3 separate regions of the Homo sapiens genome follow, and regions 1 and 3 are each linked to region 2. Evidence: fine-mapped QTL for protein levels in blood plasma. Region 2 holds a variant in brackets. A gene starts in each other region. All regions are shown on their reverse strands.

Region 1 (5,000 bases), not on the chromosome of region 2:
AAGAAAAAAAGAAGCATAAAACATGTGTCCCATCTCTAACACTAGCCTTGGGAAAATCAGGATCGACATTTCTTACATATAAAATTGGCTGGGTGCGGCGACTCACGCCTGTAATCCCAGCACTTTGGGAAGCCAAGGAGGGAGAATCACTTGAGGTCAGGAGTTCGAGACCAGCCTGGTCATCATGGCGAAACCCCGTCTCTACCAAAAATTCAAAAATTAGCCAGGCGTGGTGGTGCATGCATGCAGCCTCAGCTACTCGGGAGTCTGAGGCAGGAGAATCACTTGAACCCAGGAGGCGGAGGTTGCAGTGAGCTGAGATCGCGCCACTGCACTCCAGCCTGGGCGACAAAGCAAGACTCTGCCTCAAAAAAAAAAAAAAAAAAAGGCAATAATCAGGCTCTTTCCTTTTTAAGGGAAAACATACAATAATAAACTTTTCTTACTGAGTTATGAGGATAAAATAAGATATAAGAAGCAAAGTAACTTTATAAACAGAAATGAGTCTTATTCTGTTATGCTCACTGGCTGAACAGAGCAGCATTAAAATTCACATTCAACAACCCTCGGAGTTTTGCCTGCATTACCATATACTTTAAAGTAAAATTGAGGCTCGGTGCTAGCTCTCAAATGCATCACTTTATGTCCATATTTTCCCAAAGTGTGAAACATGCCAGTGTGGTACCTACAAAATATTAAGTGGCTTATGGATATGCAGCAAATAACCCCATGTAGTAAGGGGTACTCTTTCAAAATCTCTTGCAATCTCTTTCATTAAGGAAGATAACTCCATTTACAGCTGGTATAGCCTTAACACTTTCCCAACACTTGCTAATTTCCCCTTTGTAACAGAAAGACAGTATTTAATACAATTTCATAACTTTTTAATTTGTTTGTTTTTTTTTAATGATTACTCACCCATTTGTGGCAAGTGGCACTGGCTTCCCATTCACCATAAGGATTTTGTTTCAAGGAAATTAATTTAATTTTTAAATGGGACATAGCTATACAAAAAAACACATCTAGTAATCAAAAGTTCAAGCAGTACTGCCATTAGGCAAAAATCCCGAAAGTGGTACACGGTAATTTAACGTTGAGAAAACGACTTCATGAAATTTCTTTTTTTTTTTTTTTTTTGCGCGGGGGAGACAAAGTCTCGCTCTGACGCCCAGGTTGCAGTGCAGTGGTGCAATCTCGCCTCAAAGCAATCTCTGCCTCCCGGGTTCAAGCGATTCTCCTGTCTCAGCCTCCTGAGTAGCTGGGATTACAGGCACCTGCCATCACGCCTGGCAAATTTTTGTATTTTTAGTAGAGGCGGGGTTTCACCATGTTGGCCAGGCTGGTCTCAAACTCCTGACCTCAGGGGATCCTCCAGCCTCGGCCTCCCAAAGTGCTGAGATTATAGGCCGGAGCCACCGCGCCCGGGCTCATGACAATTTTCTAAGGCAGCACAGATGAAACAAGGAAAGCAGGAACCAGGGTCCAAAACCATGTCTCTCTACTCTAAATTCGATGCTCCTTCCACTACACTGATGGCTTTCACAGTTTACAGTGCATGCAAATCACCTAAAGGTCCTGTTCACAGATCACAGATACCGACCAAGTAGGTCGGGGTGGGGCCCGAGAATCTGTATTTCTAGCGAGCGCCCAGAAGTAGCGGAGGCTGCTGGTCGTCGGGCTACCCTTTGCCTGGCAAGGCCCTGGGCAAAGACTACAAAGAGAGAGACTCCCGGAGACGCTGAATTTTCAGTGTCGCCAACTGTCCTCGACTCGGAACGCTGGCCGCACCTGCCGTGACATCACTGCACAGGGGTGCAATTGCGTCACTCCCCAGGCGTCACTGCCGAAACAACCCCTGTCCTCCTGTCACTCTCGCCGCTAACTACAGACCCCGCCCCGCCCGCCAGCGCCCCGGAGGCCGAAGTCACGCAGTCGCGCTCCGTCGCAGGCCTGTGACGTTACGAACCTCTCCCCCGTGACCTCTTCGACCCAAACCTCAAGCGAAAATTCCCTAGCTCGCTAGACCGGCGCAGGACTGTGACTGCGCGCCTCCTTTTACCTGAGAGGGACCGCCGGGCCCCCGGGCGCAGCCGCCAAAGGCGGGGAGCCGCCGCCGCCCCGGCGCAACTCATTGCCGGAACTAAAAAAAGCAACCACTTCGTTGAACGGAACTGGCCAATAGTGCCCTTGGCTCGGACTGATGACGCACAGCAGACGTAAGGAAGGCTCAGCTCGCCCGCGCACCGGTGGGAACGCCCCCTAGCTCTGCGCTAGGGGTTAGATTGGTTAGATACGACAAATAAAAAGATTTTATTGGGTGGGGTCACTGTCAATCACTCGGAAGACCAAGGCCAAGGCGCCTTGGGTTGCCAGGGAGATGAAAATGCTAAATTGCTGTTTAGAAAGATCAGGACAAGGTTATGATTTCTCACCCAAGTTCCTGGGGAAAAGGATCATGAGGGAATTACTTATTAACAAGGCACGGTATTTCCTGCTTTACCTACGTGGAAGGAGATTTTTTTTTTTATTTGTATCCTACATCTACTTTAAAATAGTAAGCCTGGGCAACATAGCGAGACCCCGCCTCTACAAATAATTTTAAAAATTAGCCGGGTCTGGTGGAGCACACCTGTAGTCCCAGCTACTCGGGAGGCTGAGGTGGGGGGATAGCTTGAGCCCGGTAGCTCGAGGCTGCAGTCAGCCGTGATTCTGCCACTGCACTCTAGCCTGGGCCCTGTCTGAAAAATAAATAAATAAATAAAATTATATGTATATCTAAATTACATGCACCACATGGTTAATGGTGTTATATAGTGTTATCTCTATTGGTGGGCTGAAAGCCAACTTTAAACTTCTTCCCGGTCTTTTCTCTATTTTCAGAAACAGAGAACATGTTTTATCCTTGGTATCCACCTTAATGTACTGTGTGCATGTATGCATGTATATTTGTGCAAATTGGAATTTTTTGAGAAGGGAGGGGAAATTTAGCAACATACTTTAAAAAGATCATATAATACAGCAGTCTTACTTTTAGGAATCTACTCAACGAAATAATTTTTAAATGAGTAATGTACATGAGGGCAAAAATCAAAGATGCGTGTCTGCAAGGATATACAACGTTTAATATTGGCAACATCAGGGGGCTGGAACTGGGAGAAGGGAGCTTTCACTTTCTACTTTACACCCTTGGATTATTTATATACTTTATCCAAGTTTACCATAAAATATTTTAAGATGGAATACAATTGTAAAATTATTGAATTCAAGTTTTTAGTTTTTATATCACTCTAGTGTTCAAATTGACACACCAAAATAATTTAAAATTATGATGAACCCAAATACTACTTAGTGAGGATGTTGTAGCACTCTCATGTAAAACTACTGAGTGTCTGAATCTGGCGCTCAAAAGCCTTAAAATGTTCAAAACCTTTGCTGTAATACCACTTCTAGGTCTCTGTTTCCTTTTTGTTTTGTTTTTTGTTTTTGTTCTTTTTAAATGGAGTTTCACTCTGTCGCACAGGCTGGATTGCAGTGGGGAGACCTTGGCTCACTGGAACCTCTGCCTCCCGGGTTCAAGCGATTCTCCTGCCTCAGCCTCCCAAGTAGATGGGATTACAGGTACACACACCACCACGCCCAGCTGAGACTGGGTTTCGCTGTGTTGGCCAGGCTGGTCTCAAATTCCTGACCTCAAGTGATCCTCCCACCTTGTCCTCCCAAAGTGCTGGGATTATAGGCGTGAGCCGCCACGCCTGGCCTAGGTCTCTGTTTCTAAGGAGAAAAAATGTTGACAAAGATTTATAGATGTGCCCATTATTTATTACTGGGAAAATTTGGAAACAAAATGTTAAGCAACAATTGAATATCAAAACATCATGTCCGAGTGCAGTGGCTCACGCCTGTAATCCCAACACTTTGGGAGACTGAGGCGAGAGGATCACTTGAGCCCAGGAGTTCAAGACCAGCCTGGGCAACACAGTGAGATTCCATCTCTACAAAAAATTTTAAAAATTAGTCAGGCATGGTGGTGTGTGCCTCTGATCCCACCTACTTGTGAGGCTAAAAGGATCACTTGAGCCCAGGAGGTTGAGGCTGCACTGAGCCATGATCACACCACTGCACTCCAGAGTGGGTGATAGACCTAGACTCTGGCTCAAAAAAAAAAAAAAAAATCCAACTGTATGATGTTATGTAGCCCATTGAAATGTTTGTAAAGAGCTTTTAATAACAGGAGAAAACACTAGATTCTTCAGGAAAACACATATTAAGTGAAAAAGAAATTAGAATACCAAAGTTCTTTCCTTCTTTTTCCTTCTTTTTCCCTCCCTCTGTACTTTCTATCTTAAAAAGAATTTTGCCAGGATTAACAGTGCGTGCCCATAAGTGCTGCTTTTTAAGTTTTTTTCTCTGTTGCTTTTGATGTTCTCTGTATTTGCTATAAAAAACAAGTATTTTTATAATGGCAAAACAAAATTTAAAAAACAAAAATGCATACTATTCCCTAATTCCATCCCCCTACCCACCAAATTATCCATTAAAAAAACTAGTTCCAGCCAGGCACGGAGGCTCACCCCTGTAATCCCAGACTTTGGGAGGCCGAAGTGGAAGGATCACTTGAGGTCAGCAGTTCAAGACCAGCCTGACCAACAGGGCAAAACCCCATCTCTACTAAAAGTACAAAAATTAGCTGGGCATGGTGGCACACACCTGTAGTCCCAGCTACTTGGGAGGCTGAGGCAGGAGAATCACTTGAACCCAGGTTGCAGTGAGCCGAGATCGCACTACTGCACTCCAGCCTGGGCAATAGAGTGAGACTACATCTCAAAAAAAAAAAAAAAAAAAAACACAGCCAGGCACAGTGGCTCACGCCTGTAATCCCAGCACTTTGGGAGGCCGAGGCGGGCAGATCATGAGGTCAGGAGATCAAGACCATCCTGATGAAACCCTGTCTCTATTAAAAATACAAAAAATTAGCCGGGTGTGGTGGTGGGCGCCTGTAG
Region 2 (5,000 bases):
GTCAGTGAAAGAAGTTTGACTCCTGGTCAGGAGCACCCTCCACCGGCCAGCTCCTTCCTTTCCCTGGCTTCTATGACCTCCTCAGCGGCCCTTCTGAAGGAGGTGGCCGCAAGGGCTGCGGGCAGTCTTCTGGCTGAGAAATCATCGCTGCTGCCTGAGGACCCTCTACCGCCCCCGCCTTCAGAGAAGAAACCAGAAAAAGTCACTCCGCCACCTCCACCGCCACCTCCACCACCTCCACCACCACCACCACAATCCCTGGAATTATTATTACTCCCAGTTCCTAAGGGAAGAGTTTCTAAACCCTCCAATTCAGGTATGGCATCTTTTCTTTCAATCATCGTGTAAGTCCTTTAGACTATAAACTGCGATGTCTTATTCATTGCTTTTTTCAGTTGGGTTCCCCATCTGATCTGAGGCAGGAATAAAAAAGCAAGAGCACAACAAAAATACTTTAAGTAAGCAGCATAGTAGTCTTTCATGTACGTATTACACAAAGACTTCACAAATAGCTTCACTTTTGAAAGGTAATGAATAATCTTAGAGACATACAGCATTCCCTCCCTTTCATACAAATGATTTTTTTTTCTTACTAAGTTCAGGCTAGGTCCATACAAGATATATTTAATGGGAGAAGATCAAAGCATCTTTGTCATGGAGTGCATGGCATCACTGAACATAAGGGGAAAAAAACCCACTGCTTTTGAAATAGTGGACAAGGGAGAGCCCACACTCCTGCTGCCTCCATCACAAATGGACTTTTGTACAATCAGGAACTACTCTGCCCTAATTTATCACACCATATACTTTTATGTTAGCATTTTTATTACTTTTTGTGGAATTTAAGCCCTTTTCACGTATCCTATTCTCCTACAATTTCTTGTCCTATAAGAACTCAAAAAGATTGTCAATCAAACATAATCAACACATTTCCTGTGAATGCTTTATTTAATTCAAATCCAATCCAATTTTGAAGGAATGTGCATGTGGAAAATTTGAATCCTAAGGTTTTTCTAGTGGAGGCAGTCTTTCCAAAGGAGAAATCGCTGTCATATAGGACCTTAGCATTCACAATTATTCATCTGAGGGAGAAATTTAGTCACTTGAATTCTCACAGTGGAAACACCATTTCTTGTTCTGGTTTGCTTTAAAATTGTGTACATGATAAATACACGTTCCTGGGATGCGTGTTGGGGTTTCAGATGTCTCTTAAGGATATCCTGCCAGACTGGAGCAGGAAGTAGGCTATGTGCATCCTCATCGGTACAAACATTGCCATCGTGTGTGTCTAGCCAACTTTTGATTATTTTCAGCAACAATGATGAAGAGGGTTTGGAATGGCAAATAATTGACGGAACGATCACAGTTAATGTCAATTTGATGCATTTATGACAAATTTCCATTTAAATGGCTGAGTGAGCTATATTCACTAATTATAAGTACTTCAAAACTTGAGTCAACAGCAGAAGACAACGAGGAAAATGGGTATCTGGGACTTTTATGACTCTTGGTGATCCAAACTGTTCTCTCCAGAGTTTCTGAAATGTCAGTAAAATCCTAGGATGTTGTCAATTCTAAGTTCCACTTCTCCTCTCTTCTCACCTGCCATCTGGTGAAATAAGGAGAGAAATGGGTAAAATTAGGAAACAAGGAGAAGAGCAAAGGAGGCTGGGGTAGTTCTACGATGGAAAAAATCACTCCTGACTTATAGAAATTTCATTTAGGGATAGCAGTAGAAAGAGAGGTATGGCTGTATATAAAATAAAATTTTAGGCCGGGCGCAGTGGCTCACACCTGTAATCCTAGCACTTTGAGGGGCCAAGGCGGGTGGGTCACCTGAGGTCAGGGGGTCAAGACCATCCTGACCAATATGGTGAAACTCCGTCTCTACTAAAAATACAAAAATTAACCAGGCGTGGTGGTGTGCGCCTGTAATCCCAGCTACTTGGGAGGCTGAGGCAGGAGAATTGCTTGAACCCGGGAGGCAGAGGTTGCAGTGAGCTGAGATCGTGTCACTGCAGTCCAGCCTGGATGAGACTCTGTCTCAAAAAAATAAAAATAAAAAAAAGAAAATAATAATTATATATATGTATATTCTGCATATCTAGTTATTGAATAAATGTGTGAATGGCGTTTCTAGTATACAATTCATCTGGACATTTGTTAGTTGGGAAAGCTTATGCAAAGTTAATAATAAACTTTAGTTGATTGAAGACTTGGAAA[G/T]AAGTGACTGATAAAACCATGTTTCCTGAAGCCCAGACTGTAGCAGCTTTGTCATATTGAAGTCTCCGGTATAACCAGCAATGGTTGTGAATATAATTTTTTTCACTCAAACGACCAGATACATGTAAAGATGAGAAAGAGGTCATGAGCTTCCAGTGAATGGTAGACTTTTTGTTTGTTTTGTTGTGGGAAATACACCCAAGGGAAAAGCTATGTTCCTTTTTGGTTTAAATACACTTAATCTATGCCAGCAACTCAGTGGGGTTCTCAGAATAATTGAATATGGGAGATCTATAAGAAATCGTTTCTTACTTTGCTTTTTACTATATTTATTATATTGCTGAAACACTTAATATTTTAATCAAGGGATGTTCAGAATGTTCAAACTGAAAGAGGAGGGAAAGGAACTTCTCAGCTTTGGGTTATAGAACCCTGTGCTGATTGACTTGTACCTAAGGCCTCCCCACCCCAACTCTCCCATTTCAACATGCCTCTGTTCAGTCTAAGACTTGAAGAAGCAGCTTCATCAGCAGAGTAATTTTATTTAAAAAATCTTTCATTTTGTAAAACTCATGCATGAGGAAAGATCACTGCCAAGAAAATGAGGGTCCTTGAAATTGTTACCCGAAAAATATTCCATACGTCCACGTGGGCCCATCCTACGTTCAAGTTCTGTTTGTTATTGCATGGCTTGGAAACAGAAGAGGGGATGCCCTCACTCTTTTCAGTTAAAGTGAATGTCATCACTTCCCAGCAGCCTAGCTAGATTATGGGTTAATAAGGAGTTCACAGAGTATCTAATTTTGTTATTTGTCTTTGTATCATGGGTACATGATTTGGTGTTACTGGGGATCACTGATTTTGGCATCTGAGGAGTGGAAGGAAAGGTGGATCATCTCCATCTGTCCCCTCTACCCTCCCCAACTCCCTTTTCTTCCCTCCCCCTCCCTCCCCCACCTTCCACACATTATACTGTTGGTTTGGGGGCCACCTGGGGCTGGATTGGGATGTACCTTCGATTTATCTAAGAAGCATTATGGAAATGTGGTGAGAGTCATCACCCCTGTATGGGAACATTTGTCATTATTATTCTTTCCTCTCCCTTAGAAGGAAATCTTAGTTTAATTCAAAATACGTAGGTGCATTGGCCTCTCACAGCAGGGAAAAGAGTTTCTGTTGCCTAATGACTTAAGTAAACAAATAATAACCGCCCCCAAGAACAACAACAAAAAGCCACAAAAATAAACTACACACCATCCTGATTTCAGGCAGGGCTTTCATTTTTAAAAAGCGATTTCTCAAAATGCGCAAGAAAAAAGCATATAAAGTTGATTCTTAAGTTACAAAGAGATATGTGCTAGAAAAGCTGATCCCGCCTTGAGTAATTTAGACACCACCATTTCTTTGACCTTCTTTAGGTCAAGGGAAGTCCAAACCATGAAAAAAAAATTGTCTTTTAGGTTTGGCCTTATTCTTCTTTTTTGAACAGGATTCAGTGGTTGCCAGGTCATGGTGTATTTAATTCCTTAAGAGTCCACCACTCGATAGCCTTTCCGCCCTGCAAGAGAGACGTGACACTTGAGGGGGAGGTTTCTTTCATGTGACCCTGCGCCCCCAGCACATGCTACACGGCTCCTCTGAAAGGGGACACGATAGAGGGAAGATTATGTCCGTTTGCTATAAAGATAAATGTCACACATTGACTGAATTCTCTTTGAAGCTACTGTTCTGTTGCAGCTAAGAATAAAATAAATGGTTTTTATTTTAAAGACAAAGTTTCTTGTAGAAGGCCAACAAGATTCCCAGGATGCCAGACTCCTGTTTAAAAGAAATAACAGGGAGAGTTTCAGAGAGAGGGTCTCCAAAACATCTTATTGTACTGAATAAAATGTAAATATTCTTAGAAGCAAACCTGGTCTCATACAGCTGAGAACTAAGAATATTTCCTGTGGGTCAATACATAGGGGGTTTCTGGCTGCTGTTTTCTTTAATATTTATGTGATGTTATTAAAATTATTGCAAAAGCATACAAAGTCCGGAGAGGGAGATCACCTCTCCTGATACTCCCATTAGGCCCGTGGTTATTATAATAAATCTTTTGTTTGTGACAGCGTCTGGCTCTATAGCCCAGGCTAGAGTGCGGTGGTGCGATCTCGGCTCACTGCAGCCTCCGCCTCCCGGGTTCAAGCAATTCTTGTGCCTGAGCCTCCTGAGAAGCTGGGACTACAGGCATGCACCACCACACCCGACTAATTTTTGTATTTTTAGTAGAGATGGGGTTTCGCCATGTTAGTAAGGCTGGTCTCGAACTTCTGGCCTCAAGTGATCCACCCTACTCAGGCCCCCAAAGTGCTGGGATTACAGGCATGAAGCACAGGACCCGGCCATAAGTCTCAATAAGCCTTAATCTGAGAATGATCCCATATATGAACTTGTTTAGAAAATTCACTTTTTAACCTAGATTTTTAGAACTGTCCGTCATTAATCTCAATTGTATTTTCGCAGTGATTTAAACTTAGTATGGCTATAGATATCAGACTTCTCTGAATATTTACTAGTTAAAATAGGCATTAATAAAGTCAGCATCCATAATAACAGATAAACCCAGGGACATCCATTGCTAACCTAGGCTTTTTTTGTTGCCATGAAATAGCATTTGAGACACATAACAAAGAAATTCTGTTAAAAGATTTAAAGTCCATGTGTATTGTTAGGAAGGAAGATAGGTCGTCATCCTACACAGATGTGTACCGGTAATGTTAGTAGGTCCAGAATGG
Region 3 (5,316 bases), not on the chromosome of region 2:
AGGTGGGTGTGGTAGCACACGCCTGTAATTCCAGCTACTCGGAAGGCTGAGGGAGGAGAATCGCTTGAACCCAGGAGGCGGAGGTTGCAGTGAGCCAAGATTGCGCCATTGCACTCCAGCCTGGGCAACAAGAGCAAAATTCCATCTCAAAAAAAAAATTATATTATAAAGCCTGTTAATCTTCTGGTCTTTCGTCTTCACTTTTAATTTTATTTATATTTTGATTAGACACGGTATTCACATGGTTCAAGATTCAAGAGAACAAAAGGATATGCTGAAAAATGCGTTTCCCACCCTGTTCTCCAGCTCCAGTTTCCTTCCTGGGAAACAACTCGTGTTATCAGCGCGTGCACATATAAAAGCAAATTGTGTGTCTCTGTGCTTTTTCCATTTAAGTACAATTGATAAACGACTTGAACACGGCTCTGCGTCTAGGTTTTATTACTAAACAACCTGTCCTGGGGAGCGTTCTGTAAGGAGAATCCTAGTTATTTTTGATAGCCATATGCATTCCATTGCAGGGCATACAATAATCATTCATTTATCCCATCTCTATTGGTGGACATTTAGGTTGTCTCCAGCTATTAGATTGGTGCAAAAGTCATTGTGGTTTTGGCTCAATGTTGCAGCGATGCAGTGGAAAGCCTTGTGTATTCCTTTCACTTACGTGTGAGCATTATCTGTAGGATAAATTTCTGGAAGTGCCAAGTCAAACAGGACATGTGTTTATATGTTTGATAAATACTGCCCAAATATTCTCTTTTGAGGTCGAGTCAGTCTACACACCAACCAGCAATGCAGGGGGTTGCCTGTTTTCCTCCCACCCTTGCGAATAGTGTGTTACCAAACTTTTTTTTTTTTTTTTGAGACAGGGACTCACTCTATCGCTCTGGCTGGAGTGCAGTGACACGATCATGGCTCACTGCAGCCTTGACTTTTCAGGCTCAAGCAATCCTCCCACCTCATTCTTCCAAGTAGCTGGGACTACAGGCACGTGCCACCACGCCTGGCTAATTTTTTTTTTTTGGTAGAGACAGGGTTTTGCCACGTGGCCCAGGCTGGTCTCGAACACCTGGTTTTAAGTGATTCTCCTGCCTCAGCCTCCCAAAGTGCTGGAATTACAGACATGAGCCACTGTGCCTGACCTACCAAACTGCTTTTTATCTTTGCTGATCTGGTAAGTGAAGAATAGTATCTTTTGTAGTTATAATTTTCATTTTCTTAATAAGTGAGTTATTGAACATCTTTTTACATGTTTATGAGCCCATGAATTTTCTTTCTGCAGGAGCAAGCACTGTCTCTTCATCTTTTTTTTCACAGGGGGTGGACAGAGTCTCTCTCTGTTACCCAGGCTGGAGTGTAGTGGCGCAATCTCGGCTCACTGCAACCTCCACCTCCCGGGTTCAAGCGATTCTCCTGCCTCAACCTCCCCAGTAGCTGGGATTACAGGCACCCACCACCATGCCCACCCAATTTTTGTATTTTTAGTAGAGACAGGGTTTCACTGCATTGGCCAGGCTGGTCTCGAACTCCTGACCTCGTAATCTGCCTGCCTTGGCCTCCCAAAGTGCTGGGATTACAAGCATGAGCCACCACGCCCAGCCCACTTAGGCTATTTCTGATTTTCCAGTATTATAAGTAATACTGCAGTGAAAAGCCTTGCATATAAATATTCTATTTCCTTAGGCTAAATTTATTTATTTTTTTGAGACAGTCTTGCTCTGTAGTCGAGGCTGGAGTGCAGTCATGTGATCTCAGCTCACTGAAGCCTCTGCCTCCCAGGTTCAAGCGATTCTCGTGCCTCAGCCTCCCAAGTAGGTGGGACCACAGGCATGCGCCACCACACCTGGCTGATTTTTGTGTTTTAGTACAGACACAGTTTCACCAGGTTGCCCAGGCTGGCCTTGAATTCCCGACCTCAAGTGATCCACCTGCCTTACAGGCATGAGCCACCACGCCCAGCCTCTTCAGGCTAAATTTCTGAAAGTGATCTTCATTCCTAACCCCAAACTGCCCTCCAGAAAGCTGGGTTGCACTTCTGCCACAGCAGGATCTTTACTCCTCTTAAAATCTCCGCGGAGCCTGGGTGGGAGAGGCAGAGCTCCGGGGGGAAGATTCTCTCCTGGCCTGATGTAGTGTTTTCCTTGGCTTGTCAGACATGGAGGAGATTATGCCAGATATGATAGTGGAGAGAGTCAGACATGCATGAGACTGGAGAGAGAAAAAAAACAAAATAGCCTCTGAGGTCTCACTCACAGCCTACTTACTCTTACTTTACACACAATTCTATATTCCGATATGTTTGTGACCTGGTTTTTAAGAGTACAGAGCAAATTAGGAAGGAGAAGCAAGGCTGCTACCTAGAGGTACCCTGGTCCTCCATGAAGTTTCCAAAAGAAGAGCAAGTGCAAGTAAAATAATAAAACACAGCCAGTCACAAAGCCATCAATTTGGACCATGCAGTGCAAGGCTTTAACTGTCCCAAGGATTCCAATCATGGATAAGGAAGAGCTTAAATTTGATTATAAATCTGAAAGTCTGGAAGTCAGCTTGAATATTGTGGTAGACATAATCATATCCTCCTCCTCAAAAGATGCCCTGGTTCTAATGCCCAGAATCTGTGAATATGTTATGCTACCCCACGAAGGGAAATTACAGTTGCAGGTGGAATTCAAGTTGCCAATCCATTGATTTAAAATAGAAAGATTACCCTGGATTATCTGGGTAGGCCCGATGTAATCACAAAGATGCTCACCAGTGGAAGCAAGAGGCAGAACAGTTGGTGTCAGAGTGACAGATTGTGAGAGACTGGTGGGCCACTGCTGGCTTTGAAGATGGATGGGGCCACCAGCCAAGGAATGTGGGCAGCTTCTAGAAGCCAGAAAAGCCAAAGAAACAGGTTCCCTTCCAGCCTCAAGAAAGCTGTATCCCTCAACCCCCTTGCTTTTAGTCCAGCGAGACCCATTTTGGACTTCTGATTTTACAAAACTTGTAAGATAGTAAATTAGTGTTGTTTTATGTTTGTGTTACGGCAGCCACAGGGAACCAATACAAATATTATCTGGTACCGCCCATTAAAGCTGCTCAGAGACAGGGAGCCCCACCCTGGCGGGGCTCCGGTGGCTGCACAACCTCTGCAAGCAGGATCAAGATGAGAGGCGCAGGCCAGGTGTGGTGGCTCACTCCTGTAATCTCAGCACTTTGGGAGGCCAAGGCGGGCGGATCACTTGAGGTCAGGAGTTCGAGACGAGCCTTACATGGTGAAACCCTGTCTCTACTAAAACTCCAAAAATTAACCAGGCGTGGTGGCGTGCACCTGTAGTCCCAGCTACTCGGGAGGCTGAGGCAGGAGAATCGCTTGAACCCAGGAGGAGGAAGTTGCAGTGAGCGGAGAAAGTGCCACTGCACTCCAGCGTGAGCGACAGAGCGAGACTCTGTCTCAAAAACAAATAAAGGAAAAAGAAAAAAATGAGAAGCGCGTGTTCCCGACTCCGGTGCTTTTTCGCAAGGTCGTGCTACTGCGCCTTCTGAACTACGAGTCCCAGGTACCAAGAAAGTTGAATTGCGTGCTGTGGCGGGTCCGTTATCTGCACCACCCGTCTGCACGGGATGCGCTGGCTTCCTGCCCCGGATGCACAAGGCTCCCTGCGGGACACTCAGGGCGAGGCTCTGAGCCCCTCCCCCGCGGCAGATGCCGTCCAGATGTGGCCGGCGGGTCCCGCGGGCTGCGGCGACAGGGACCCCGTCGGGGGCAGCAGGAGCCCTGGTGCATCCCAGGCCCCGGGGGGAAGGCCGGGCCGTCGGAGGAGCGGAGGAGCCCTGGGGGGCTCCCGGGAAGCCGCGGGCGGACGGGGGAGGAGCCCGGGCGGAGCTGCGGGCGGGCGGCCCGCTAGGGGTGAATCGGGTGGAGTAGTGGTCGGGTCCGGTTACTTCCCTTTAAAAAGACGGGAAAGGAGGAGTCCAGTGCTGGAGGGGCAGGGACGGCGGCGGCGCAGCTCGGAACCCGCCAGGGTCCAGGGTCCAGGTTCCAGCGCCCGGCGGCCCAGGCAAGTGGGGCGGGAGGGCGGGGGCTGCGGGCGCGGGTAGGGGTCGTGGGGCAGTTGGGTGCGCGGGAACCGAGGGAGCTGCAGACCCAGCGCTTGGCGCGTGCGGAGCTGGACTTCTGCGGCCGCGACGCCCCTCTTCCCAGATGGGTAAACTGAGGGCCAGGGAAAGCGAAGAATTCTTTTGGCCGAGCTCCCACTACGATCTCGCGGTCAAGTGGGTCCCCAGCGGGCCTCGCAGGGGTCGGAGGGGCTCCCATCTGGGGAGGGGGCCCCAGGGTGGGCGAGGGCGACGGGAGCCTGGGGAGGACGGACGGGGAGGGCGGCGGAGCGGAGCTAAGCTGCGGCGGGTGGACCCGGCTCGGCCGCGGCCACTCTGTCCCTGGTGGGTGGGGCGCGGCCGAAGGCAAAGGGCGAACCCGGCCCGCCTGTGGGGTCTCTGGCCAACACTGGGCTCAGAGGCCCTTTCTTTAACCTTAGATCTCGCTCCTCGGTCTAAAGCCTCCGCCGCAGCTCTCAGTGAAGAGGAAGGGGAACTCTAGGTGCTCAACGCCCGCGTTACAGTCGCGTTCTCCCTCGCTCCTACAACCCGGCCAAGATGCCGGGGCATGGATGGGGACCGAGGTTTGGGGGTTGTGGAGCCTATTCCACGCCCTCCCTGGTGAGCAACTGAGACAGATCCAGGGCCCCATTGCAATCCACTCTTGGTCTGGGAAAAGGTCCCCTAAACAGGGCCAATGGGATCCTTTCCCCAAATGACTCCAGAACGCACCCCCCCCCCCCAGCAGTGCGGTGGGCAGGGACGGCCCAGGTGGGCTATGTCCTGGGGTTTTGTGACTGGATCCCCACTCCTCCCCCACCTCAGCCCCTGGACTGCAACCCACCAGGCCGTGTTCGGGGGTGGTCAGAGCCCTGGTCTCAGCCAGACCTGAGGTCTGATGTGGCTTCATCCCTGAGTCTCTAAACGCCCTGGCCTTACTGGGCCTCAGTTAATTCACCTGTGAAAGGGGAGGCTTGGACCAGAGGGCCCCTCAGGGTATGTGTTTTGTGGAGGGGAGGTGGGCGTGTGGGGTAGGGGTGACCAGGAGGAAGTGGGGACAGCCTCTGTCCCACAGGAAGGCTGGCTAGCCCCAGTGGGTATGGGGGAGCTGGGCAGGGAAGAGGGTGGACTCCCCTCTCCCTGTGGGAGGGTGTGCTGGGCCCATGAGGCCCTCATCCACTCTCAGCCACCTTCCTGTGGAGCCCTAGCCTCGAAGGCCACACTATGAGTGCA

Alleles and levels. Alleles are on the strand shown, and positions count from the first base shown. The strength of an association depends on the size of the effect and on how common the allele is.
For the plasma level of the protein whose gene starts at base 2,183 in region 1, allele T in region 2 goes with a higher level than allele G (moderate association).
With allele G in place of T in region 2, the plasma level of the protein whose gene starts at base 3,966 in region 3 is lower (weak association).

What was found. A credible set is the group of variants that fine-mapping cannot tell apart. PIP is the posterior inclusion probability: the model's chance that the variant is causal. Protein levels are from antibody-based Olink assays in UK Biobank. Linkage for the fine-mapping came from a reference panel and not from the study's own genotypes, which makes the PIPs less certain.
Region 1: COQ7 starts here. The variant in region 2 is the best candidate, but not a certain one, in a credible set for the plasma level of the COQ7 protein (UK Biobank, PIP 0.58).
Region 3: ANPEP starts here. The variant in region 2 is the best candidate, but not a certain one, in a credible set for the plasma level of the ANPEP protein (UK Biobank, PIP 0.86).

Annotation. Positions count from the first base shown.
Region 1 is chr16:19,064,797-19,069,796 of GRCh38, reverse strand. It overlaps COQ7 (coenzyme Q7, hydroxylase), which reads right to left and starts at 2,183. Exons shown (of 6, transcript NM_016138.5): 1 at 2,060-2,183. The coding sequence starts at 2,132. It overlaps COQ7-DT (COQ7 divergent transcript), which reads left to right and starts at 2,106. Exons shown (of 3, transcript NR_119381.1): 1 at 2,106-2,216. RefSeq lists an enhancer at 1,820-1,969 and a silencer at 2,000-2,159.
Region 2 is chr4:145,897,482-145,902,481 of GRCh38, reverse strand. It overlaps ZNF827 (zinc finger protein 827), which reads left to right. Exons shown (of 15, transcript NM_001306215.2): 2 at 1-316. Among named protein-coding and RNA genes, the nearest start is that of ZNF827, 39 kb to the left of the region's middle. The variant G/T (reference allele first, on the strand shown) is at 2,224.
Region 3 is chr15:89,813,502-89,818,817 of GRCh38, reverse strand. It overlaps ANPEP (alanyl aminopeptidase, membrane), which reads left to right and starts at 3,966. Exons shown (of 21, transcript NM_001150.3): 1 at 3,966-4,046. RefSeq lists cis regulatory regions at 3,583-3,585, 3,603-3,632, 3,631-3,634, 3,542-3,670, 3,922-3,927, promoters at 3,542-4,030, 2,876-4,030 and an enhancer at 3,898-4,397.